7 linked regions of the Homo sapiens genome follow. The protein of the gene in region 2 interacts with the protein of the main gene of each other region in a pairwise test. Each region holds a gene or a part of one and is shown on either strand. Other genes may lie near its edges.

Region 1 (3,500 bases), on a different chromosome or scaffold from region 2:
TTGGGACCAGCCTCAGCAACATGGTGAAACCCTGTCTCTAAAAATGTATATAAATTAGCTGAGCATGGTGGTACACTCCTGTAGTCCCAGCCTCTTGGGAGGTTTGAAGTTGGAGGATCGATCACCTGAGCCCAGGAGGTAGAGTCTGCAGTGAGTTGTGATTGTGCCACTGCACTCCAGCCTGGGCAACAGAGTGAAACCCATCTCAAAAAAATAAAAATACATCAGAATGTTTTATTGTACAACCAATTTCATTGGTACATACAAAAATGTAATCAAAACAATGGACTTTTTTTGATGTTTTAAACAATTTTTTTTTTAGGAATTAGTAGAAAGAAAATAAGGGAAAGAAAATGGGGTTATGTTTATGAATACTTAAATAGACCAGAAGTAGAAAACTGTGGTTTGCTTGCTGGCATTGAGCTGTATTAGGATATTAAATGTGTAGGGTCAAGTTCTGTGATGATTCAATCTTTGCCTTGTATTGATGGCATGTCCAGATCTCTTTGTTTTTATGGACATTTTTTGCTTTGCTGATGTGACTTCAAGATTTGTAAGTTTTTAATTTTATTCTTAGGTATGGAGAGAAAAACAATGCATTCATTGTTGCCAGCTTTGAAAATAAAGATGAGAACAAGGATGAGATCTCCAGGAAAGTTACCAGGGCCCTTGATAAGGTTACCTCTGATTATCATTCAGGATCCTCTTCTTCAGATGAAGAAACAAGTAAGGAAATGGAAGTGAAACCCAGTTCGGTGACTGCAGCCGCAAGTCCTGTGTACCAGGTAACCATGAAAACAGCTCAGTTTTAAAGGGATGTGCAGGGATTGCCAGGACCTTTCAGGTAGTCCTACTTGGCATTGCCCAAGGTTTCTGACTTGAGATTCTGGATAATAGTTCTTGCCTTTCCCCATGCTAAGGGAAAGCTGTTTCTCTGGCACGTAAATAGGCATCCTGAGTCATTTTATCAAAGGTCAGCTTCACTATACAATAACTAGGATAAATATATTTCAGAAAAATTGGCAAAAAGTAGAAAATTCATGATGGTAAAACATTCCTGATATTTTAAAATCTCATTCAAAAGTTACCACTTATTTTTTGTAGTATGTAACACTTTGTTTTGTACCTTTGGGTTTAACTTTCTATTCTCTCCCGTTCCATGATTAAAGAGAAACCTCTCTAAATTTATTATATTATAATTAATATTTTACTCAAGCTGAAACATTGTCTCCCTTTTTGCTTTACTAGTTGAAAAGTCATATAGCTAGTGTGCCTGCACTTACAGATCCATTCACTGATTTACTATTTATATCTACATACCAAAGAACATTTAATCGACTTTAAAAAATTGTTGACCAAACAGCATTCTTCAACAGGAAAGATATTTTAAAGTCATAACAATTTAAAGAGATTTTTTGAGTTGAGCCTTATTCTGTAAATGTACTTATTACTAATTTTTAAAGGTTATCTATTTTTACTTACTTGCTTTGATTAAATGTGAAACATACCAGGTTTGTGGTAAGGTTGAGCTGAAAATGAAAATTTAGACCTAATGAGTAAGAAGCAGAATATTGGAGCTTTTAGTATGATAAACTAAACTTTTAAATTCAGCATACATTTACATAATGAACATTATTTCAGTGTAACTTAATTTTTGGTTTTCTCATTTTTTTCTCAGTTGAATTATTCTTCCTAGACTTTAGGGGAAGATTATTTCTGAAGATTATCATAATTTAGGATTCTATGTATATGTGTATGTATATGTATATGTATATAACATGTACCTGGCTTTATGAAACTTCAAACAGTACAAGACAGTATAATAGTGAGAAGTCCTCTTTCTCCCCAACCACCAGTCCCTATGCATTTCCACAGAGACATTCATTACCAGGTTTTTTTTTCTTTTTTTTAGTATCCTTCCAGAGACATTCCCTATATAAATAAGTAAACATAGTATTTGTACTTCAGGATCATTTTTAAAAACCTTGCCATAAATATTTGAGGCATTTTTTTTCTCTGTGTGATGGATTATATATTGCAAATTAGGTATATTGAATTTTCTGGAATTCATCCAAATGTGTGGCAATTTTACCTCAGAATTTTATTTGTTGTTAAGCAAGAATGTAAGTCTCAAATTAAATTGATTGCTGCTAATTTTTTACAAGCAAATTAACCTTTAATTTTTAGGATTTCTTTTAAAATTAAATTGCATTTATTTTCCCTCATGTTGAAAGACTATTAGGATAACAGAAAGGTATGGAAATTGAGGTGTCTCTTACGTGCTTTTTAAGGAAAACATTTCTCCTTGGCCTAATACTCATTAGCAAAACATTTTATAATAGAGAAACACTACTTGTGTGAAAGCTAGTGCAAATGGCCCACTTTGATTTTCTTCTTTCTAGTATCTTGAATCTGGCATTGCCACAAGCTTTAAAAAAGTTTTATCAAATAAGGACAACAAAATTTCTAGCTTGGAATTTTTGTTCTCTACTGTTTTCTAAAAGGTATCCCAAGAGAGGGGATAAAGAATTATTCATATCTTAAAAAACGAAGAAATGAAGATTGTGTCAGTTCTCCTGAAATAGATCTGTAGATCCAATTCAGTATCAATGAACATCTTAAAAGGTTTTTTTCTGGAAAGTGACAAATTGATTCAAAATTTTAAAAAAGGAGGATCAGTTGGAGGGCTCACACTAATTCAAAGCTATTATATATTCATCAAGACAGTGTGGTAATGGTTTAAAAACATACAAATATATTGATGGCACAGGATAGAGAGTCCAGAAGTAGACCCACATACATACAGTTAGTCTTTTTTCTCCCTTTTAACAAAAGTGCCAAAGCAATTCAATGGGGAAAGTCTTCAAGAACTTGTGCTGAAACAACTGGATGATCTGTGTAGGAAAAAAAACGAACCTAACTTAGCTGACACCATACACAAAAATATTGATTTGAGATGGATTGTGTACCTAGACATAAAAGATAAATCTCTGACGCTTTTAGAAGAAAACATAGGGAAATATAATCTTTATTTTGTGACAGGCAAATATTTCCTCTAGAGGGTCACAAAAAGTAACTAATAAGGGAAAAAAATTGACAAACTGGACTTCATCAAAATTAATCATCTTTTTGTTCATCAAAGAAACCATTAAGAAAATGGGCAAACCATAGACTAGGACAAAATATTCTCATTACATATATCTGTAAAGGACTTATTTCCAGAATATACTTTTTTTAAAATCGCTCACAAATCACTAGTAAAAGGTAAATGATTCAATGAAAAATAATGGGCATATCCTGCTGTAATCTCAAAAAAAGGGCAGGAGGAGCAAAAGATGTGAATAAACACTTTACAAAAGGAGTTATGTGAATGGCCTCATTTATGATCAGAGGAATGCAGATTAAATCCATATGAAACACTAGTTCTTCCAGAACTGCACAATTTAAAAGCCTGACAGCATGAAATGTTAGCAAGGATGTGAAGCAGCTAGATTCATAAA
Region 2 (3,500 bases):
TAGCCACCTTAGCTTAGAAGCTGCATGTAACTGGTATCTCTATCTCTTGTAACTGTCCCATGGACATAGTTTACAGCATTTTAGCAAAGAATATGCCTAGTTAGGAGAGTCACCATACTTAGCCCTAAGCTTCCCACCAAGTAGTTATTGTCATTTGCTGTCCTCCCAATCTGGAGGCATTTTACCAATTGGGGGTCAGTTTTATCAATAAACTCAGTGGCCTGGTAACACATTCGACATTCCACCTTCATCAGGTTTCCAGGGAAACAGAGCTTGAAAGTTACCCCAAAGTCAAATGTGGTAACAGAAAAGGTTTTGTTAACTTTTTTTTTTTTTTTTTTTTTGAGACAGAGCCTTGCTCTGTTGCCAAGGCTGGAGTGCTGTGGCACAATCTCTGCTTACTGCAACCTCTGCCTCCTGGGTTCAAGCGATTCTCTTGACTCAGCCACCCAAGTAGCTGGGATTACTGGCGCCTGCCACCATGCCTGACTAATTTTTTTTTTGTATTTTTAGTAGAGACTGGGTTTTGCCATCTTGGCCAGGCTGGTCTTGAACTCCTGACCTCAAGTTATCTGCCCATGTCGGCCTCCCAAAGCACTGGGATTACAGGCATGAGCCACTGCACCTAGCCAACCTTTTTAAGTTCTTGTCCTTTATTATCTTTTTTTTTTAATTTGCCTCAATAAAGACAGGTAAGTGAAAGTTGGTTTTGCCTCACTCCTATGGTAAAACAGGGATCAGTTTTTGACCAAAACATCAGTCATCCTGTCCACCCAAGTGGTTTGTCTTTTATGAGCCTCCTGTGTAAGGGCAGAGAAAGTTATAGAAAGATGGGTATTAATCAATTCAAAGAAAATAAGTAGAAAGCTCATGCCTGAGGTTTGGCAGCTCACCATCACAGGCCTTTCAGAAATGGACAGGCCCCTCCAGTAGGTCATTCAGCAGGTCAGGCTTTCTCTGGATTGAGGCTGAGGGGAACAATTTTTTAAATTCCGGAGCTTAAAAACCCCCTGGTGAATTTTCTGAGCTTTTCCATCTCAGAAAATGGGGCATTGCCTCCCTGGCCTACATTTATACAGAGACTTTCAGAAGAGGCTATGTTAGGGTAGAATTTGGTAAGAATTGGAGTCAGTTTGGGCTGTGGTGGACTGCAATCACATCCCTCCTTGTCTTCCATAGATCAAGGACACCTTCCTGAGGACTTACACGGACGCTATGCAGACTTACAATGGCAATGATGAGAGGAGCCGGGCAGTGGACCATGTGCAGCGCAGCGTAAGTTCCAGAGGAGATGAGGGTGTGAACTAACTATGAAGTCTAGGCTTAGACTTATGGACTGCCTGTAGGTTGGCCCAGTAGTTGCTATTTGTTCCCGTTCTTCAACTCTTAGTCCAGTTCCATTGCCAAGAGTTGACACCCAGTCCTTGTCCAGGCTCCAGTTATTCAGGTAATTAATGTCAAGGAGGACCACTCCCTTGAGTGTGCCTTGTATCAGTAAGGGTTGCAAGTATGGCAAGGACAGCTCATTTGCTCTTCAGATCTGAACCCTTGTGAAGGAGTTAGGCAGTGAGTGTGTGACAACCTTGCTTAGAGTTGGCTCCCGGAGGCTGGCTTTCTGGAATCGATGTCTTCAGGCTGGGTGGAGAGCTCAGGCGAGCTGCATTCACTGGCTGGGGCAGTGGAGTGGGCATAGAGTGGACCTAGAAGAAACTGAGGCTCTGTTAGGTATGTGAAGGTGGTGAGCTGCCTGATGCTTTGCGGAGGATATGGGGGAAATAGAAGAGAGATTTCCTGTCTGGGTGGCAAGTGCTGGCACTCAAGCATAACTGCCCATCAGGAATCACTAAGGGGGATTTTGCTTTGGTTTTTCTTGGTTTTGTTTACTTCAGAAGAAGTCTTTTTTCTAATTTATTTTGATAAAAGTTCCAACATATACAGAAAAGTCTCAGGAATACTACAAGGAACTGTATACTCAGATTTACCAATTAATTATATTTTTGCCCCGTTTGCTTTAATATTCTCTACATTGGGGTTGGCAAACTTCTTCTGTAAAGGATCAAATAGTAAATATTTTAGGCTTTGAGGGCCATAAACTCTGTCACAACTACTCATCTCTGCCACTGTAGCACAAAAGCAGCCACAGACAGTATGTGAACACATAGTTGTGGCTGTGTCCCAGTAAAACTTTATTTACAAAAACAGGTAGCTCCTGGGCTATAGATTACCAGCTTTGGCTCTCCCTTTCTGTATGTGCATCTTTTTTTCTTAAGAACTATTTATTTACTTATTAGTAGATATCCCAGGGGAGAGTTTTTTGAAACCATATTTGCCTCAACTCACCAATCAATAGTCCTGATTTAGTGGATGAGTACATCTATATCAATAGGTGATTGTGAGTTGGACACAGACGCACTGCTTTGCTTTGTGGAGGTAATAAGAAAGCCAATGTGATATATAATTTAGAACTTCCTTCTTGGAGATCAAACAAGCATCAATATGGGTATAATTGTTATTGGAGCTTCCATTCATCTTGACTCACCAAAGCTGCACATGTTGTCTTAGGGCTTTTGCCTGTGTTTCTCTTATAAAAGTCACAAGGCAGTGATTGAGGAGACCACATTTGATCTGCCATTTTTTTATTCTTTTCCTTTCCCTGTTAATAGCTGAGCTGCTGTGGTGTGCAGAACTACACCAACTGGAGCACCAGCCCCTACTTCCTGGAGCATGGCATCCCCCCCAGCTGCTGCATGAACGAAACTGATTGTAATCCCCAGGATCTACACAATCTGACTGTGGCCGCCACCAAAGTTAACCAGAAGGTACCCGCTTTCTCCTGGCCCAGATGGGACCAGTGGTGAATGTTTGGGGGGGCTTTTTTATTTCCATGAAATTATGACAAATAGATTTGAAATAGTAGTCAAGGGAAAGAGAATCTTACTTTGTGGTTCCTTGATTGCCTGGGAGAGGCACTTGAGGCTGCTCACTTCTAAAAGAGAAAGCTGTGACTCAGATCAGCCTTGTCTTTCTCTCCCACAGCAAGGATCTACCAGGCATAGTTAGGAAGGTTTAGCAAGCAGTTCCTGTTAACCCTGATGCTTATGTCAGACAGCGAGTGTTGGCTTTCTTCTTTTGGGGTGTCCGTCTTCTGCTTAATATACCATCTAAACATGAAATTGTTTGCAGCTGGGTGTCAGTTTTTGACAGCAAGAGGGGAGTAGAGTTGACAGACAGCATCTGCTTCTGCTAGGAGGGTGGCCTTTATTTTAGGGAGTTTACTGCCATAGGAAAAGAAATCAGCAACTCTGATTCAACTCACTGTCAACCTCCCGACTCCCAAAGAAATTAGAGAGGGGAAAAAAGAGGACTAAACGAAATTTAAAAGTTAGTACATAGTGAAAATGAGGGAAATGAAGTTTTAGTAGTCAGAGAAGAGGAAAATCAATTCTGCATTCCATTTTACAGAGAATACGATGAAGACATGATATAACTGCATGTGAAGA
Region 3 (3,500 bases), on a different chromosome or scaffold from region 2:
AATTTGGCAGGTGCCAGTACACTGATAGGGGAATAATAATATAAAAAATGGAATAAGACACAGTCAATAAGATGTGTGTTATTAAGACACTGAAGCTTAATCTCACAGGGAAGCTTTGGGAAATGGTGTAAAACATATGCCTCAGAATTCTTCCAGACAAGGGGATAGGAAGGTGGGATGTGGATACTCCCGCACCCACAATTTGTTGGTTAGAGCTATCCACAGTGGAACTTGGATTCTCAGGCACCCCCAATTTATTGTGCTTGTGTGCAAAGGGGATTCCAGTAGACTGAGAGCAGCCCTCCAAAAATGTTTCAGGTCCATCATTGGAAGTCTGATGGCTTACAGAGAAATGGTCAGGGGATCTGCAGGGAAATGAAGCAACACCAACATTGTCTGTTCCAGCTATTTAGCTGAAATCTAATATGAATACACTGTTCTTGGTATATTGTATTTGTTTTTACAGTTTTCTTCTATTTCTTGCAATTGGTACTGGTTTTCGCTTTCATTTTTGTTTCTTTATAAAATAAATTTATTTAAGGAAAATTAATTGATCTAAAGAAAAATGTCACACAGTTAATGTTCCAGATGGTATGAAAAGGTGGCAAGAATCATGAAGGAGTAGAATTCAAATGGCTGAAGTTTGAGAAATGCAGGCATAATGGTTCAAGTGGGAGGTGGCACTTTTTTCTGTAAATGGCTATTTACCAAATATTTTAGGCTTTCAAGAGCATAAGGTCACTGTCACAACTACTCAACTCTGCTGTGTAGTATGAAAACAGCCATTAACAATACATAAATGATGGACATGGCTGTGTTCCAATAAAACTAAATACATGGACATAGAAATTTGAATTTTATGTAATTTACACTTGTCACAAAATATTATTCTCCTTTTGATTTTCTTGAACAATTAAAAAATGTAAACATCTTTTTTTTTGCTTGCAAGCCACACAAAAACAGGCAGTGGGCCAGATAGTTTGCCAACCCCTGATTCAAACCACAACCCTGGAATCTGTCCTAGTTCTATTAACTACCAATATGACCTTGGGCAAATTACTTGACTTCTCTTAGCCTCAGCAGCCTCATCTGTATAATGGAGATAAACATACCAAAAACCTCACAAGGTTGATGCAAAATTTAAAAATAGAAAATGAATACTCACAAAGCAGGTGCTCAATGAGTTCACAGTATGACATTAACCAGCTGTTGTAATAAGGTGGATTCCAGCTTTCCTGTGCCCCAATCATTGCAGGGTAGATATTTCCTACTCTGCTTCTTCACAAAGGCAGCTGTGTACCTAGTGGCCCATCTCCCCTACTTTGGGATGTGGCTACAGAAATTATTCCTCTTCTCTATAGGATAAGCCTCTGAAGACTGAGCCTGAAAATGCCCAAAGGTTCTTGTCATTACTGATTTCAGAGGTCTGGAATTGGGAGCAGGTCAAATCAAAATTTGCATTTCAGCTAAATTAACTCTTTACAACTAGTATTTTGAATCTTACAGAATTATGCTGTTGACAGCAGTGGTTCTCAAACATTAGTATATCTAAAAATCACATGGAAAACTGTAGATTCAGGCACTGCCACATTCAAAGCATTTTTGAATCATAAATGCCCCAGTGATTCTGATGAAAATGATTCCTGGAGAGCAGTTCAGGAGACACTGGAAGGATGGAGTGCAATCTGTCCAGGTGAGCATACCCTTCTGAAATCCTCTTTAATGATTTTTCTGTATCTGTTTAAATGCCTCATTGGCTGAGACACCTGGATTATAGTATTTGCTCTGCATGCCAAGAGAAAGGTTTCTGCAGGCATGTTTACCTCTGCTGTCCTCACTCTGTGCTATTTCTTCTGAACCTCCTGGATTAGGAAACCATTTATACAGAATTCTCCATTTCAGATATCATGTGCTAATGATCATATCCAATTAAACATGCCAGTGCAATCTCAAAAGACATAGGCTATTTACAGCCTCTTAGGTGAAAATTCTTAAGCAAAATCTACATTTTTCCTAGACTAATAAAATGTCACCTCCCCAAAGGCTGCTGTCTACAATCTCCTACCAAAAGTTTCTAAACCAACCCCTGGAGCAAAAAATAAAACTATACCCATAGATTTTAGAGGGGCCCATTTAACACAGAAGAAAGGGATCCTGGGGAAGAAGCAGAAGGAAAGCAATGGCACATTTTTATAACAGACCAAGAACCTAACCCTTCACGTGCATTACTTCATTCACCTTCACATCACGCTATCAGGAGGTTCTGCAATTATTCTCATTTCACAGATGAAGAAACTGAGGCATAGGAAAGAGGAGCTGCCCAAAGCAATTCCAGACCAGAGTCTAGAGTTTTAACTACTAAGTTATCCCACAAACAACAACAACAACAAAAAACCCAGATCTCAATGATCCCCTATCTCAGCTCTCCCAGCTTAATTTACTATTACTTATTTAGCTTCTCAAAGCTTCCAGAATGTCTACCAGCACTTGAAAGACAATATGTTTTTAACTAAGGCTCAATTTTGCTCTTGGCATCATGTGACTTTGAGCTCCTCCCTTTGCCCCAGGTTTATCGCTGTTCAGTGTGGTTAAGACATCCAGCCCACCTGTCTTATAGACCTGCTACCACTCATGAAGTTCAAATAAGATAACTTATGTGAAAGTCCTCTGAACAATGCAAAAAGTTATCCAAAATGGTAATTTCTCAGTCTGTCATTTTCATAAATTATTTTGAAATGTTGAGAAGGAAGAAAGAGTGCATTCATTTTATGAAATCATCTGTGTCAAAAATCAGATTTTCCAGAGATCTAAGGTAGATTGTAAAATACCAAAACTGCCGATCTTTGGGGGAGCAAAGAAACTCTACTACTTGGAAGGTGGACTATTTTTTGTGGCTCAATGTAATGGAAATTACCAGAGCTTGAGAATCAGATGACCTGGGCACTGGACATTGCCCTGCCACTACCTGAACTTTAGTGAGTCTTTCCCTCTCCCCTTACAGGGGAGACAAAGCTGCTTAGTGGTTAATAAGGTGGTTAGGGCCGGGGGTGGTGGCTCACGCCTGTAATCCCAGCACTTTGGGAGGCCGAGACTGGCAGATCACCTGAGCTCGGGAGTTCGAGACCAGCCTGGCCAACACGGTGAAATCCTGTCTCTACTAAAAGTACAAAAATTAGCTGGGCGTGGTGTTGCATGCCTGTAGTCCCAGCTACTCGGGCGGCTGAAGCAGAAGAATCGCTTGAACCCCGGAGGCGAAGGTTTCAGTGAGCTGAGATTGCACCACTGCACTCCAGCCTCGCTGACAGAGCGAGACTCCATCTCAGAAACAAAACAAAACAAAAGAAGAAGGTGGTTTGGGGATTCAGACTGCCAGTGTTAAGTCCCAGCCCAATTACCACCTCATGAGTGACCTTGGACTGGTCAGGTCACCTGTCTTGGTTTGTTTCCTCAGCATAAAAATAAGAATAAGAAACAACAACTTTGCAATTGTCCAAAGAATG
Region 4 (4,035 bases), on a different chromosome or scaffold from region 2:
GAAGCGAACAGAAGCGCTGGCGCATCCCAGCACCAGGCATCGAACTTCCCTGGGCAGCATGGAGAAAAGCTGCCGCCCGCGGGTGGGCTCCTGGCGGGGACGCCCAGCGGCGGGGCGGGGCGAGACGCGGGCGGCCTGCAGCGCTGCAGCCGCAGGAGCCCTCAGGGCTCCGCACAGCCCGGCCCGTTTTCCCCAGAGACTCCCTCCCCTCATGCCTAACCCCAATTCCAGTTTTCCTCAGGCCTTTCGGGTTGCCCCAGGGTTTCTCTCTGGAGTCTAGGCTGACTTCCCCTCTCCACCCGCAGAGCCCTGCGTGGGCCATGGCCATGACCCTGGCGGTGGCTGCAGGCGTCCCGGGCTGTGGAGCAGGGGCTGCGCGCCGGACCGCTGGAGGGTGTGTGGCACAGCGTGGGGACTGGTCGCTGTGTGCTTGTGTCGCTGGCTGCGTGTACTAGGGGATGGGCAAATCACACGGCTGCCGCATACCCACTGCCACCCAGCGCTAAGAAAAGAGCAGGAAAAGCAAAACAAACAAAAAAGAAAAGAAGACAGGGAAATAGAAAGTCGATGTGGGGGATTCCGGAGCTTGAGGAGTGGGAGGCGCCGCGCTCTTCTTGGCTCGCGGCGCCTGGGCTGGCAGACTTGGAGCCCTGGGTGGCCGCAGTCACAGACGTGCTGTGGCGGTGAACTGACTTAAAGACGCGGGAGGGCGGCCTGGGTGAAATGTCCACCGACAGTTCTGCTGGCTTTACGCGTTTACCTCCAATTCTCTGTTCTCCTCCAGCCTCTCTGCCCCTGGCGAACCTCCCTGCTGGTATTTCCGTACATGCAAGAGCCTTGGCATCATCGCCAGGGACTGGCGGGTCGGTGGACTCAGCCTGGGACAATTCTGTATCTCAGGGCAGCCTCGAGGACGGCAATGGGCAGGAAGATAGAGAAAGGGATGCGGATGCTGGAGGCGGACGGAGGCAAAGGGTGTGCCGCCGTGTGTGTCAATAATTCTGGGGAATTTTCACCTCTCCCAGATGAGTCTCTACTTACCCCGTGAGGGGCCCCAGGGGCGCCGGGCAGCGCGCACAGGTGGAATTTCTGCGCGTCTACCGGCACCAGGCATGGACCGCACCTGTCCGTGTCCGAGAGCTACAAGTTAGCGGCGATTGCCTGGGACCTCAGGTGCGGACTCCAAGGGACATTGCGGGCGGGGAGGGGTGCAGCGGTCCCCAGTCTACGACCCCGGGGACTGCCCGGGCGGTTCAGGACCCATTGTGAGTTAGGTGGCGAAGCCCAGGCACTGTCTGGTACCTCATGAGCTTCGGGCTGAGACCTTGTCCCCCAGCCACGGCGGACAGTCCAGCTCCTGCGCGGGGCTCAAATAGGATGGGATTGCAGAATGCTTCCCTCTCCTTTGTCTTGGGACCCTTTCCCCCATTCTAATTGCTTCTCCTCCTTGGCCATGACCTGGAGACCGCAATGGGAAACCTCTCCAGCGCCCAAGGGCTGCTCCGAAAGCGGAGCCGGGGGACAGCTCGGAGCCCGAGCGAGCCGGGCCTCCATCCCACACGCACAGAAGACGCGGTCAGACCCCAGCAGGAAGGAACCCGAGGGGCGGGAGGGACGAAGCTCTCCTTGTCTTGTCCATGGCTGCATCTGGAGTGGGTGGCGGGAGGGGGGTCAGCAACAGTAGAGGGAATGGGGGGCTGGAATAGGGAGCGACGCCGGGACAGCGCAGCTCCCAGGCTGCTTTCGCCACATTCGGCTGGACTCAGTGACCGTCGGAATCGTAGGGGTACCTCGCCTCGCGCTGTGCCTCGTTTGCCCCTTCCTTTCAGACCCGCCATCACTGCTCGCAACCCTCCAAGCCCCAGGATCCAAAGTTTCCGTTTGAGAATCTGCACGTGGGGAGGACCTCCCTCCAATTCCCCCAAGCCCCGACCCCTGAGCCTCCGGCTTGGGGGGATATGAAGGGAGAGACCCCCTGGTGCCAGGGCCCTTGGAGTGGGTAAGCGGAGAGCTGCACAGCGCGGGGCCCTTACCTGTCGCTGGTTTCGCTCCAGTTGCCTCCCCGGCTGCGAGGTGGTGGAGGCTTGAAGGAGCGAGGAGTCCTTTGTGGGTTCAGGGCCGATCCGCTCGGGCTGGAGCTGCGCACCGCTTAGAGTCCGAGGCCAGCTGCCGGTTCTCTTTCTCCCTTGATCTTGCAAAAGAAAAGGAAAAGATTAGTTGATGCCGAGACACTGTAGGGGTGGGGCGGGAGAGGCGGGAGAGGCGGGAGAGAACCGACCCCAAGGCTCTGGCGAGAGCTGCGGGGCTGGCGCGCGCGCAGGCAGAGTCACGCACCCCACACTCGTCTCAGCCACTTGGCTAGTCTGTGACCTGTTCGTGGTTTAGACTGGAGTTAAATTGACGCTGCCCCCGCCCTCCACGCCAAACCACTAAAGGAGAAGCAAACAAGACTTTCAAACCTGGCTTTCACGAAGAGCCTGGAGACCAAAATAGAATGGAGACCTGGATGCCTCGGCGAGCTGGGCTGGATTCATTTCTTCACCAAAGTGCTTGGGGAAGTAGGAATTAGTTTTGGGAGGCAACACCTATTCGGGTACCTCGGCGATTTCCTGGTGAAATCTGCGATTTCCAGGCTCTGGCCAACCCGCAGCCTGGAGTGTGTGAGTGTGTGTGTGTCTGTGTGTGTGTGTGTGTGTGTGTGTGTGCCCGCGCGCGCTCCCTAGGTCTTTGCGCCCTGGCGCCTTTAGTACAGCAGGAGAGCGTGTCTGTATTCGTGCGTGTGTGTTCGATTAGCTGCAATGGGCGGACAATTTCTGGAGAGAACATTTACAATTTTCTTTCAGTATGACAGGATTAGTTGCTGTTGAAGGCGCTCCTCCAATGAAATCTTCTGTGCTCTCTGATTTGGCGGTTCTTCTGAGCAAATATGACAGCCGTTTCTCCAGGCTCTTTTTCGCTTCTCTCCATTTCCATCCCCAGAGCCCAGCTCTCCATCTGCAATTTCTACATCAGAACCACCCCCAACCCCGAGTCCCTTCCCTGCAAGTGTGTGAGTGCTACAAAGGTGACATGGCATATTGGGAAGAACGCAGTATTGCTTTTTGTTTGTCGGAGATACTTAAGCCCAGTTTTTCCAGGTGGGAAAATGTTAGACTAAATCCACTATGCTTTGTAAATATATAATTGTGCTGAACTATTCACAGATTGTTTATTTCTTTGGAGCTTTGACAAATGTATCCGAAGGAGAAGTAATTTTTTTCTCTTACTTTAAATATGAGCCAGTGACCATGTTTTCTTCAGCTAATGGGCAGTAGACTACAGAATATATCTATATCTATATCTGTATCTATATCTATATTCAGAATATGTGTATATCCAGAATATATATATCTAGAATATATATATATATGTCCAGGATATATATATCCAGAATATATAGATATATATATCCAGAATATATATATATATATCCAGAATATATATATATATATCCAGAATATATATATATATCCAGAATATATATATATCCAGAATATATATATATATATATGTCCAGGATATATATATCCAGAATATATATATATATATATATATATATATATATATGTCCAGGATATATATATCCAGAATATATATATATATATCCAGAATATATATATATATATATGTCCAGGATATATATATCCAGAATATATATATATATGTCCAGGATATATATATCCAGAATATATATATGTCCAGAATATATATATATCCAGAAAATATATATATATCCAGAAAATATATATATATATCTCAAAAATATATATATATATATCTCTCTCAAAAAAAAAAATATATATATATATATATATCTCCAGAATATATATATGTTTGATGCTTCAGGGAATTTGTGATCTCCATGAAAAAAGATTTAGGATGCAAACTTTCTGTGTTCAGACCTGCCTTTGATGTTTATTTCTTTATTTTAATGAGAAATTTCTGCCAATAATTGTATCTATTATTTTTAGATACTAACCTCATTTGATAAAAGTA
Region 5 (4,140 bases), on a different chromosome or scaffold from region 2:
TAATCCTTACAACAGCCTGAAAAGGCAGGTATTATTAGTGTCCTCATCTTACAGATGTAAATATCCTCTTATAGATGAGGATAATGTTAATCAACTGGCCCAAAGTCACCAGGTTAGGAAGTACGGGTGGGGGCAGAAGAACCCGGGAAGCTCCTTCTTAAAGTCCAAGGTGCTACTGCTCAGAGTTGACCTCCTGCCTCTGCTCCCCTCGACCCGAAAACCACACAACTGAGGGACTGTCCAGGTGAGGCTTGGGTAGGGTCCCCTCACATTCCTGCTGGCTTCTCGACTTAGCTTTCCCAGAAGACAAGCGATGTCTTGTCTTCTCCCAGATCCTGGCGGCTGGGCTGAGCCGGGACCACTGGATGGCCGGTGATTAAGTCCTGCTCTTGGCCCGCGTGAGGGAGCTGCCAGGTGCTGACAGGGCGAGGCTCAGGGTCTCCCCGACTCCGCCCCGCCCCAGCTGTCGTCGTTTTGGACACCTCGGGGTCACCCGCAGACATTCCGACCCCCTCTGGCGCCTTCCCTGGAATCCAGATACGCCTGGCATCTGGGGAGCGAGCCGCCGCCGCCGGGGCTGTGCGCACCGCTAGATGGCAATGTCGGTCCCTGGTGCCCGCTCCGGACCTAGACCGTGCGGCCGCCGTTGGCCACCGCCCCCAACTCCAATGCGACTGCGAACCCAGAGGAGCCCTCAGGCACAGCCTCCCGGGGAAGTGACGCGGGGTCCCCTCGCCAGGCCCCGTCGGACGCCGCCCCAGAGCTGCCCTCGGCTCCGCGCGGGGTTCTCGGGTGGGAAAGTTGAGGGAGCCCGGATTCCACCCGGCACCCTGCGAGGAACGTGTGGGCGGGAGCGCGAGTGCGAGTTCTGTTTGTGTGTGCCTACGGGGGAGCGCGAGTAGACGCTAGTAGCTGTATGCATGTGCGTGTGTGTGCGCACGGCCACGCCTGGATACCAGTCCGCCCGTGAGAGCGCGTGAGCATGCCGCGCCGTGTGCACACGTGCATGTGCATGCGTGTGCGTGCCTAGGGTGCTGTGGCCGGGAGGATGCACACGGTTCGGGTGCCTCTACACCTGTGGACTTGCATGCACAAGCAAATGCAGGGCCGAGAGTGGGTGACCGGTCACATTCCAAACGCCCCTGCCGGAGACTCAGCCAGACCTTAGCTGTCCGCCTGAGCGCGTAGAGGGTCGGGCCAGGAGCCTGCATCGGGATTGCACCTGGCCTGTGGGTGAAGGGTTGTGCGGGCGAGGAGGCCAGACTACTAGGGGCTGCCTGCGACGGGCCACCTAACTTTGGGACGCCGTCTTAGCCCGGTGCCCAGAGGTGTCCAAGTCCTTAAAGATGTGGCAGAGTCCTAGCCTCTGACTGACATCTGTCGAGGGGCCTCTGCGAGAGTCGCCCAACCTGGCCTTGAGGGACACCAGGCACGCTCAGCTCTAATAACTCCCCTAAGAGGCGTTATTGCCAAAAGCCGCCCATTCTCGCGGCGAGAGGGCATCCGCAGTGCACCCACAAGGCGGAGGCCCGGACAGAGCTCGGGTCAGGCGAGTGCAAGACTCTTGTCCTCCTTCTCTCCTCACCCTGCACCCTACCCCAGAGGCACTGTCTAGCCCCTGTGACCAAAGTGGGGACCCAGTTTCTCACGCTAGGGTCGGGCGGGCCTCGAGGGCCGTGTTTTCCTAGGCCATCTGGAGGCTCCTCCATGTCTCCGCCGTGGTCGAAGGAGCCCTGGCTCTCGGGTGCCCCGCCCTCCCTCCAAGCCCCTAGCACGCAGTTCCTGCAGCCTCTGGGCGTGGGCACTGTGTTTCCCGAGTCCTCGACACCCCTCTTCCCCGGGCGAGACCGGAGGGGGTGCTCCGCACGCCCGTGGGGTGGTTTGGGGTGTAGGTCTTCGGTTCTTGGGCATTCACTCCATGGCTCTGGGAAGGCTGTGGCCCCTGGATCTGTCCCTGGGGCGGGAGAGGAGACTCCAGAGTCCAAGGGAGGGAGAGGCGAAGATTTGGCACCGACATTGTGCCCAACACTTCCGTTGCGGGGCCGGAGGAGGGGGCCTGGAGCTGGAGGACCCCGGCTTGGAGGCTGGGCAGCAAAGGGGGGTAGTACCGGAGCGGGGGAGGGGTGTCGGGGAGGGCAGGGGTGTTTTCCGTCGGGGCTCAAGGTCGTAGATGGAGGACTCCAGGGGCCGGAGTGGGCTGGCAGCGCGGGGGCAAAGGGGTGGAGGGAGAGGGAGGGCGGGGAGACGGCGGGAAAAGGGCTCTTTGGGGCTTCAGCGCCCGGCGCCCTGCTGAGCCGCCAGTGGGAGGGCTGGAGTACAGGGTCCCACCCCCGACGGCTGCCCCTGGCTCCGTGGGGTCTGTGGGCGGGCAATCCCCCGCCCCCGACATCCTGGATGCCCACCCCTTCCCACGGGCGCACCCGGGCGCACCTGGAGAAGCCTCCGAGAGCCCCCGGCCTTGCTTCCAGCGGGGTCCCCCAGCCCCGGCCCACTGCCGCTCCCGGCCCGCGCTCGCCCCGGAGGGGGTCTGGCGCCCTGTCCCAGTCGAACCCACCTCTGGGGAGCCTCAGAGCGTCCCGGGGACCTGCTTCCTGCTCTTCCCGGCGAGCCCCCCGCCCCCGCGCCGCCGCGGAGCCACTTACCCGCCGCCTCTGCCCAGCTCCCCTCGCGCCAGACAGACGGCGGGACGGACGCGCGGCCCCGCGGGCCGGCGGGGCGGGCGGCCGGGCCGAGGGCCGGGGGCGGGGACGGGGTGTCGAGGGGCGGCCCCTGCTCCGCCCGCAGCTCCCGGCGCTGTGGCTCCGACTCGCGCTCACGCTCGCACTTTTCCCCGAGCCGCGTGATGTCACGAGGAAGCAGCCAATCGTGGCGGGGCCGCGCCGCCCGCCCCGGGCCGGTCACCCGGCGGCGACGCGCGGGGGTCAACACCCGAGGCGTCGGAGACCCCGGCGGTCCGCGCCCCTCTCGGGGGCTGGCCGGCAGCTCCCTGCTTGGGCACAGAGGGCGCCGCCCACGGCCAGCGACGCAGGGGAGCAGGGGGCGCTGCCCTCCGGGGGGTGGGGGTGTCCGCGTTGTCATGGGGACGCGGCGCCCCCTCGCGGGCTGGGGAAGGAGCTGGCAGCTGGGTCCGGCCGCGCTCCCGCCTCCGCCCTGACCATACTCCCGGGACCCTGAGCTATTTTCGCGCCTCTCCGGGACCTCAGCGCCCTGCGTGGCCCCGCTGGCGGTTTGGCCGCGAGGCGCGGGAGTCTGACCCCAGCGGGAGGCTGCGGGTGGGTGGGGCGGGCTGCGCCGCCAGGGATCCGTCGGGGTCGAGGGCCGGGAGCTCCAGCCGCGCCGCTGCGTGCCGGCCGGGCCGCCCGCGAGGAGGGGCGCCGTCGGGGCCTGGGGAAGCGCAGGAGCGGGTGGACTGGAGAGGTTCGGCCGGGGAGAGAAGAGCCCACCGCGGACCACTCGCCCGCACCCGCTCGGCTGCCTGCTCAGCGTTCCGGGCCGGGGAAGGGGCGCGCCCCTGCTCTCCCAGCCCTGGGATGGGACGCGCCGCCAGTCCAGGCGCAGCCTGGACCGCCAGTTCACCGCCGCCTGTGAGGGACAGTCGGTTGCCCAAGGTCGCCGGGGCCGGAGCCCGGGACAAGATCCCGGAGAGCGGGCAGCCAATCTCAGAGGTCGCTGGGAACCGCACGGGCCGTAGCCTCAGGACTCCGGGCCTCGCCCAGGCTGGGCGGACCTTGGGGCGGCTTCAGCACCTCGGAGAGCTCCCCGCGCCCTGGCCCAGCAGCCTCGCCTGCCTGATTCCGCTCCAGCGCTTGTCTCCCTCCGAGAGCGCCCTTCCGGGGGACCGCCGGGGTCGGACGCTCCCCACTGCGCCCAGGACCGAGGCCTGTAACCCCAAATTCTGATCGCAAACATTTGATTAAGCTTAAGACGTCTGATTTCTTCTCTCGGGGAAACAACTCAAGACCCTCCCCCGAGGGCCGGAGGTGGTGAGGGCGATTGCGGGGGCGGCGGTGGAGGAGAGGCAGGAGCCTCTTGGCAGAGAATGGGAGGGAACTCGAGTAGAAGCCAGCGCTGCGGGGCTCTTGGTGTGGGGTTCTCCGCGCGGAACCCGGAAGTGGAGTTCGGGTCCCCAGAGCTCGCGAG
Region 6 (3,500 bases), on a different chromosome or scaffold from region 2:
GTCTCCTCATCTGTAAAAAGGACTCTGCCTTTACTGTGACGCTGAGGGAATGTGGGGCACCTGCATGGGTGACTGGCCCAGCACATCCTCAGAAAGGTGGCCACAGGGTGCCACGGCTACTTTCCATGGAATATGGGAGTCAGGGCCACAGGGGTCCCATCTTCTTCCCATTTAGATGGCGCCAGACTCCTCTGACAAGAGCAGGTCATTACTGAGGTGCAGTTTCCTTCTTATCTGGGGCTGCTTTGCAGAGTTGGCTATTATCCAAGATCCCAAATGATAAAAGCAAATGACTGGCAAGCTCAGAAGCAGCCCTGGCTCTGCTGCCTTCATCTACTTCTGTTTCCACAGCCTCAGGGATTGAAAGGTGAATTTAATGCAGGAGAAACTGAAGAGTCTACTTTTTGTCAGAATAATAGTTACTTCACCAGGACCAAATTAATTACTTTTTTGTTGTTATGGATATAGGTGCAATTAGGTAACTATACATATGTAATACTAATGAATCATTAGCATATCATAAATAATTTAGTTGATAAACTGTTTCAACCACCACTCTCCATAGATCATGGAAACCCACAATGTACTGTGAGGCAGTTTGTTAGCCCGCCTGCTAGGAAGTCTGGATTTCAATTATCTACATGTAAAACCCAGGCTTTCCCTTGGAGAAGAGCAAAATCAAAGCCCTTAGGTAATTTTATAAGGCATTTATGAATGTTACAAAAGCATGGGAAATTAATTTGATTCTACACTTAATTACATTCGGCTGTAAAAGAAAAAAAGATTCTCTGGATTATGATTTGACTCACTGATTTTTTTTTTTTTTTTTAAGACAGAGTCTCGCTCTGTTGCCCAGGCTGGAGTGCAATGGCGTGATCTTGGCTCACTGCAACCTCCACCTCCCAGGCTCAAGCGACTCTCGTGCCTCAGCCTCCCACGTAGCTGGGATTACATGCGCATGCCACCACACCTAGCTATTTTTGTATTTTTAGTAGAGATGGGGTTTTGCCATGTTGGGCAGGCTGGTCTTGAAATCCTGGCCTTGGCCAGGTGATCCGCCCGCCTCTGCCTCCCAAAGTGCTGGGATTACAGGCGTGAGCTACCACGCCCAGACTGACTCACTAATTTTTGCTCAGCTCTTGGTCTCTTTCAGGGGAATGTATACTGTTACGTGTTTTCATAAGGTCTACATAATGTTATGCAAGAAATACAACTAATGTGCCCACCATGGGTTTTTTAAAAGCAAATTACATGAATTCTCCCTTTGCCTCATTTGTCTGAGTTTTAGAACAGGCATATGGAACTAAGCACACCCTAGTTAAAGATGGTTAAAAATCCTTAGCTGTTTATAACACCACATTTTCCTCTGTCTCCACAACATACCCCAAAGCATAGCTGCCTCTTTGCATTTGCAAAACCCTCTGTGCTGGACAACAACCTACCCAGCAATGCGCATTGCCAGGCAGAGATCTTACCCTGGGAAACCACACAGATAAATCCTTCCCCCACAGTGGATCCTTCCCACACCCCCTAAAAAGGGAAGATGAGTGTGTGTTTTGAGGAGCCAGAGGAGCACGGCTGTACTCACTGTGAAGTCTGTGGGTGTCATGGTGGGTCAGTCAGATGCAAGCCTGCTCCTGGAAAAGGGACAAAAATCAAAAAGTGGACTGGCTTGTAAACGAATAGTAACAACCAAATGCCAAAAAGATGGAGATTAAATTTTAAATCTGCTTATTCTTCTGAAAAAAATATTCCAAGCAGGAGTTAGAGTCTATATAGTATTCTAGATTTCAGAATCATCTGAGTAGTCCACACAGAAATGAATGAACCTCTCCTTTGAAGTTATCATTCACTTCTTTGACTCTGAGGGTCACCTGATTCTAGCATTTGTTTTCTTTCTACTTAGACAATAATTAGTACATCTCCCATCCACAAATGAGGAATGGCAGGTGGGCTGTTACATTTTTCCCAGCTCATCCTTTCTACATTAGCTCCCTTTCCCTTGATTCAGCTTGTCTGTCAAGTCCTGTTTTGCTGACTGGTTCCCCTTCCCCCTGCTCTATCAGCTAAGGGACTCACCGAAGCTAACAGGACAGTGGTCGCTTTGAGAATGCCCTGGGCTCTGGACTCCCCAGGAAAAGGGCCTTTGAGTAACCAGGTGGCAAGAAGAACATGAGGGCTGGGTGGTGCCCACTGGGGTTGGGGCCCCTCCCTAAAAGACCCGGTGCCCCCAGAACCCACCTTTCTCCTCTTTACCCTGACTTCAGCAGGAAAAGGAAGTCCTAGGTTTGTGTACTGAAGAAAATGAGTTCTAGTTCCCTAATGCACAGGGCCTCGGAACTGACTGAAATAAATCTCGAGTTGTCATTTTCATGTGTTTTGAATTTCTTTAAAGCCCACCCCTACATAACCAAAGAAACAACAGCTTGACTGCCTTCGAGGACGAAGTCTGTGCCTGAGCTGGGGCATTTCCTTTTATACCCTTAGCGAGTACATTTCAAGGAAACCTGTCCAGCATCACACCCCAAGGTTCTCGAAAAAAATAGCCTCTTTCATAAATCCTATAAAGCCAACCTGTTGGCTTCCTTTCCATAACAACATCATGACCCCACCCTGCTTTTCTGAAAGTACAGTGGTTTCCAATGCATAATGTGTGGTAAAACCACTTTGGAAAACTGGCAGTTTCTTAAGACGTTATACATGCACTCACCATGTGATCCAGTCATCCCACTCCTAAGTATTCACCCAAGAAAATTGTAAGTATATGTCCCCATAAAGACTAGTATGTGAGTGTTTATTACAGCTTTACTCTGTGGTAGGCAAAAACTGCTAACAGCCTAAATGTCCATCAAGTAGTAAATGGATAAGTTAACTGTGAAATATCCGTCCAATGGAATAGGGAATGAATGACCGATTCACACAGCAACATGGACAAGTCTCCAAACAATTATGCCAAGTAGCCAGACCAAAGGGAGTTCATACTGTATGATTTCACTTGTATAAAACTCTAAATAATGCAAACTAATCTATACTGACGGAAAGCAGAATCACTGATGTCCTGGCAATAGAGAGAGAGAGAAGGGGAGGTGGCTGGGCATGGTGGCTTACGCCTATAATCCCAGCACTTTGGGAGGCCAAGGTGGGTAGATCACCTGAGGTTGGGAGTTCGAGACCAGTCTGGCCAACATGGTGAAACCCCATTTCTATAAAAATACAAAAAATTAGCCAGGTGTGGTGGTGTGCGCCTGTAGTCTCAGCTACTCAGGAGGCTGAGGCAGGAGGATCACTTGAACCTGGGAGGCAGAGGTTGCAGTGAGCCAAGATTGCACCACTGCACTCCAGCCTGGGTGACAGAGCAAGACTCCATCTCAAACAAAAAAAAAAAGAGAGAGAGAGAGAGGGAAGGGGAGTGTGGGAGGGCAGGAGGGCAGGTGGGTACAAAGGAAACCTCAGTGGGGGATAAATATGTTCACTGTCTGGGTTGTGTGAGAGCTTCGCAA
Region 7 (3,965 bases), on a different chromosome or scaffold from region 2:
CAAGGGCGCACACTGGGGACTGGGCCTGGAGGGACAGCCGGGGAAGCAGGAGGAAGGGCAGGAAGGACAGCAGGAGGAAGCAGGAAGAAAGGGACAGGAACCAGGCCCGGGATGACAGCAGAGAAGGACCAATGCCCAGCCAGGGCTTCCTCACGTGCCTCTGGGTAGAGAGCCCTGGTCTGGCTCAGGAGGCCCAGGCACTGGTCTCAGACCTGCCACCACCTGTGTGACGCTGGGCCAAGCGCTTCCCTTCCCTGGGCGTCCGTTTCCACCGCTGTAAAGTGGGGAGGGGTGAAACTGAAGCTCTCCCCAGCCTATCCCAGCCGTTGAGGAGGGAGAGGCTGTGGTCAGGGGCTGTGGGGCCCACGTTGAGGAGACGAGGCTCCTGCCCTCAGGGTGGACAGGGCCCAGGAAGGGGGTGCTCTGCACCATGGGGGCGCAGCCTGGGCCTACGGGCTCCCCCACCATGAGCTCAGAAGGAAGATGTCCGCTGAGGAGTTGGGGGCCAGGGAGAATATTCTAGACCAGATAGGGGTGGTCTGGGTAGGCTTCTGAGGGGGTGGGCTTGGAGGAGGGGCCGGTGGCCAAGTCGGGGGGAAGCAGGGGAGGAGCCAGCCTGCCTGCGTGTGCCTCTCACCTGTGTGCATTGGCGTGTGCATGTGTGTGTGCATGTGTGCCAGCGTGTGTGTGTGTATTGGAAGGCGCCCACGGAGCGTGTCTGCATGAACCAGGATGAGTGTGCGTGCTGCACCCTGTCTTGGGGCTGGGCATGAGGCGCTGGGGAGGGCGAGCTGACCGCAGACCCTGGGAGGGCTGGGCCCTGGGAAGGTTTCCGAGATGACAGGGCAGAAGTGGGCTGGGGAGGAGGAAGGCTCCGTGGGCGGGGCTGGAGCGTCTCTGGTTTTGCTGTCTGTCTCTCACGCTGTTTCCAGAACAAATGTGTGCCCTCAGCAAGGATGCTGGCTCTTCAGAGGTGTCAGCACAGGCAGCCGGCACCCCACTTCCCTCCCAGAAATCCCCCACGCCCTCTAGCTGGGGCTGGTGCAGGAGCAGTGGGGAACTCCTGTTACCCCTGACCTGCTGCCGTCAGTCAGCCGCCCGCCCCCCCACCTTAAGGAGGGGCAGAGTCAGGGACCAGCCCTGAGGGGTGGCTCACCCCAGCTTCACTTCCCCCAGCCCTTCTCAGACAGCCACTGTGCAGGCTTTGGCAGCGGGGGTCACACACTCCACCCGGGAGGCCAAAGCTGCCTGCAGGTCAGTGCCGCCCACTGCCCTAGGGGCCTCCCAGCGGGGCAGGGGCATGGTGGGGGTCTCAGAGTGGGGTGAGGCTGTGATGGGGTCTCAGAGCAGGGTGAGGCTATGATGGGGTCTCAGAGTGGGGTGAGGCTGTGACGGGGGTTCTCAGAGCGAGGTGAGGCTGTGACAGGGTCTCAGAGCGGGGTGAGGCTGTGATGGGGGTCTCAGAGCAGGGTGAGGCTGTGATGGGGTCTCAGAGTGGGGTGAGGCTGTGATGGGTGTCTCAGAGTGGGGTGAGGCTGTGATGGGTGTCTCAGAGTGGGGTGAGGCTGTGATGGGGGTCTCAGAGTGGGGTGAGGCTCTGATGGGGTCTCAGAGTGGGGTGAGGCTGTGATGGGTTCTCAGAGCAGGGTGAGGCTGTGATGGGTTCTCAGAGCAGGGTGAGGCTGTGATGGGGTCTCAGAGTGGGGTGAGGCTGTGATGGGGTCTCAGAGTGGGGTGAGGCTGTGATGGGGGTCTCAGAGTGGGGTGAGGCTGTGACGGGGTCTCAGAGCGGGGTGAGGCTGTGATGGGGGTCTCAGAGCGGGGTGAGGCTGTGATGGGGGTCTCAGAGCGGGGTGAGGCTGTGATGGGGTCTCAGAGCGGGGTGAGGCTGTGACGGGGTCTCAGAGTGGGGTGAGGCTGTGATGGGGGTCTCAGAGTGGGGTGAGGCTGTGATGGGGGTCTCAGAGCGGGGTGAGGCTGTGATGGGGTCTCAGAGCGGGGTGAGGCTGTGACGGGGTCTCAGAGTGGGGTGAGGCTGTGACGGGGTCTCAGAGTGGGGTGAGGCTCTGATGGGGTCTCAGAGTGGGGTGAGGCTGTGATGGGGTCTCAGAGTGGGGTGAGGCTGTGATGGGGAGTCTCAGTGAGGTGAGGCTGTGTTGGGGTCTCAGGTGGGCTGAGGCTGTTGGGGTCTCAGGGGTGGCTGAGGCTGATGAAGACTTGGAGCCTGTGTCTGGGTAGCAGCTTGTTGGAGTGTGGGATGTGACATTTAAAAACAAGAATGAAGAATACCCCGTGCTGTGGCCCCGAGGTGAGCAGCTACTTTGGTGAACTCGTGTCACTCACAGCCCCATCCTGGGTCCTGGGGTGTGGTGTGCTGTGTGGGGCCCAGGCCCAGTGGGGTCACAGGTACGGGGGACTCTGGTGCCTGGGCCACAGGGATCTGCACCTCACTGCGTGCCCCCACGTCTTCAGCAGTGGTTGGGGCCTGTGGTCTCAATCCCAGGCCAGCCAGGCACTCTGGGGTCTGGGCGGGTCCCGGGTCCAGACAGGGGGAAGGGCTGGGGAGGGGCTCTGGTGTGGCTGGATCGCCCGTCTATGGCCAGGTTTCTCTCCTGGATCACTCAGTGCAGAATCAAAGGGCACTTTTCTGCTTTTGTGTGCAGAAGCCGAGGGTGACCTTGTCATCAGAAGGGGAAGCGGGGCCTCAGAGGCGTGCTGCTGGCTCCAATCCCCAAAGCCTCCTGGGCAGGAAGTGGAAGGGCCCCATCCCCACGGTCCCCGGCAGCGGGAGCTCCCTGAGGCTGATGGTGCTGGTGTCTGTCGAGGAAGACAGGCCTGAGGAGCTGAGGCGGGAGGCCAGCTACGGTCCACGGCCTGGACACAGATTCCTGTGCGGGACTGGGGCAGTAGGTGGGCATCTGTGCTGGCCATGTTAGCTCCCAGGGGCCCCATGCCATCTGGGCTAAAGCCTGGGCCTTGATTTCCTGAACTTTTCTGGGAGGCACTCCACGGGCGAGACAAGGACCCATGAACAGGGCACTTCTTCGAAGCCTACGTGCACCTCGAAACTCTTGCAACATTTGCATTTTTCTCCCTAATAGTTCAGTGTTTGTTTTATTATAAACAGGAAAATTTAAATGTTGTAGTTAGAGTTTTTTTCTTCTTCTTAGAGATGGGGTTTCACTCTGTCTCCTAAGGCTGGAGTGCAGTGGTGGGATCATAGCTCACTTCAGCCTCAACCTCCTGGGCTCAAGCCGTCTTCCTGCCTCAGCCTCCCGAGTAGCACGCATCACCAGCCCAGCTAATTTTCTGTCTTTTTTTTTTTTTTTTTTTTTTTTTTTGTAGAGACGGGGTCTCCCTGTGATGCCCAGGTTGTTCTTAAACTTCTGGCCTCAAGTCATCCTCCTGTCTCAGCCTCCCAAAGTGTTGGGATTACAGGCATGAGCCACCGTGCCTGCCTGCAGTTAAACATTCCCCCACAAAATACTGGGCCACACCGAGGCTAGTATGAAAGTTGCAGCCCTGGGTATGTGTGACCTGAGAGCCCCTTGGCAGCCATGGGGAGCGATGGGGGAAGCTGGGGCAATGGGAAGGGGTCTAGGCACACGAGCCCTCGGGTCCTCACCTCCCACGAGGCAGGGTCCCAGGCTGCCTCTACTCAAGGTGGGGCAGCAAAAGAATCGCCCTCTAGCTGTGCAGACCCCCTCCCCCTCCAGGTCTGCACACCGCCCAAGGCTGGCCCTGGACTTCTGGTGGATTCAAGTACTCAGGTGGGGAGAGTAGGAGGCCAGTCGCACGGAGCCCTCCCCAACGCACAGTGCCTGCCCAGCTCAGGTGCCTCTGAGGTGTAGATTCTGAGCAGGTTCTGGGATCTCCTGGCCCCCAGCGGGGGCTGCCACAGGAGTATAGGCCCAACAGGAAGGGAAGATCCCAGCGATTGGTTCCAGTGGGTTCTGGGGATGTCC

Evidence for each region.
Region 1: the proteins of TSPAN7 (region 2) and BTG3 interact in a two-hybrid assay, tested with the Homo sapiens proteins (one large-scale study listed by BioGRID and IntAct).
Region 3: the proteins of TSPAN7 (region 2) and HTR4 interact in a two-hybrid assay, tested with the Homo sapiens proteins (one large-scale study listed by BioGRID and IntAct).
Region 4: the proteins of TSPAN7 (region 2) and CHRM2 interact in a two-hybrid assay, tested with the Homo sapiens proteins (one large-scale study listed by BioGRID and IntAct).
Region 5: the proteins of TSPAN7 (region 2) and CHRM4 interact in a two-hybrid assay, tested with the Homo sapiens proteins (one large-scale study listed by BioGRID and IntAct).
Region 6: the proteins of TSPAN7 (region 2) and CCR9 interact in a two-hybrid assay, tested with the Homo sapiens proteins (one large-scale study listed by BioGRID and IntAct).
Region 7: the proteins of TSPAN7 (region 2) and GPR35 interact in a two-hybrid assay, tested with the Homo sapiens proteins (one large-scale study listed by BioGRID and IntAct).

The regions. Positions count from the first base shown.
Region 1 is NC_000021.9:17,595,902-17,599,401, reverse strand, and holds part of BTG3 (protein BTG3), read left to right. Parts: intron 1-577; coding exon 578-785; intron 786-3,500. UniProt on the Homo sapiens protein: Overexpression impairs serum-induced cell cycle progression from the G0/G1 to S phase.
Region 2 is NC_000023.11:38,673,042-38,676,541, forward strand, and holds part of TSPAN7 (tetraspanin-7), read left to right. Parts: intron 1-1,179; coding exon 1,180-1,275; intron 1,276-2,663; coding exon 2,664-2,819; intron 2,820-3,500. UniProt on the Homo sapiens protein: May be involved in cell proliferation and cell motility.
Region 3 is NC_000005.10:148,644,528-148,648,027, forward strand, and holds part of HTR4 (5-hydroxytryptamine receptor 4), read right to left. Parts: intron 1-3,500. UniProt on the Homo sapiens protein: G-protein coupled receptor for 5-hydroxytryptamine (serotonin), a biogenic hormone that functions as a neurotransmitter, a hormone and a mitogen.
Region 4 is NC_000007.14:136,867,417-136,871,451, reverse strand, and holds the start of CHRM2 (muscarinic acetylcholine receptor M2), read right to left. Parts: upstream 2,801-4,035; 5' UTR 2,460-2,800; intron 2,368-2,459; exon of another isoform or gene 2,279-2,367; intron 2,207-2,278; exon of another isoform or gene 2,192-2,206; 5' UTR 2,034-2,191; intron 1-2,033. UniProt on the Homo sapiens protein: The muscarinic acetylcholine receptor mediates various cellular responses, including inhibition of adenylate cyclase, breakdown of phosphoinositides and modulation of potassium channels through the action of G proteins.
Region 5 is NC_000011.10:46,388,977-46,393,116, forward strand, and holds the start of CHRM4 (muscarinic acetylcholine receptor M4), read right to left. Parts: upstream 2,801-4,140; 5' UTR 2,555-2,800; intron 1-2,554. UniProt on the Homo sapiens protein: The muscarinic acetylcholine receptor mediates various cellular responses, including inhibition of adenylate cyclase, breakdown of phosphoinositides and modulation of potassium channels through the action of G proteins.
Region 6 is NC_000003.12:45,893,043-45,896,542, reverse strand, and holds part of CCR9 (C-C chemokine receptor type 9), read right to left. Parts: intron 2,327-3,500; exon of another isoform or gene 2,242-2,326; intron 1,638-2,241; 5' UTR 1,610-1,637; coding exon 1,589-1,609; intron 1-1,588.
Region 7 is NC_000002.12:240,624,315-240,628,279, forward strand, and holds the start of GPR35 (G-protein coupled receptor 35), read left to right. Parts: upstream 1-1,165; 5' UTR 1,166-1,254; intron 1,255-3,965. UniProt on the Homo sapiens protein: G-protein coupled receptor that binds to several ligands including the tryptophan metabolite kynurenic acid (KYNA), lysophosphatidic acid (LPA) or 5-hydroxyindoleacetic acid (5-HIAA) with high affinity, leading to rapid and transient activation of numerous intracellular signaling pathways.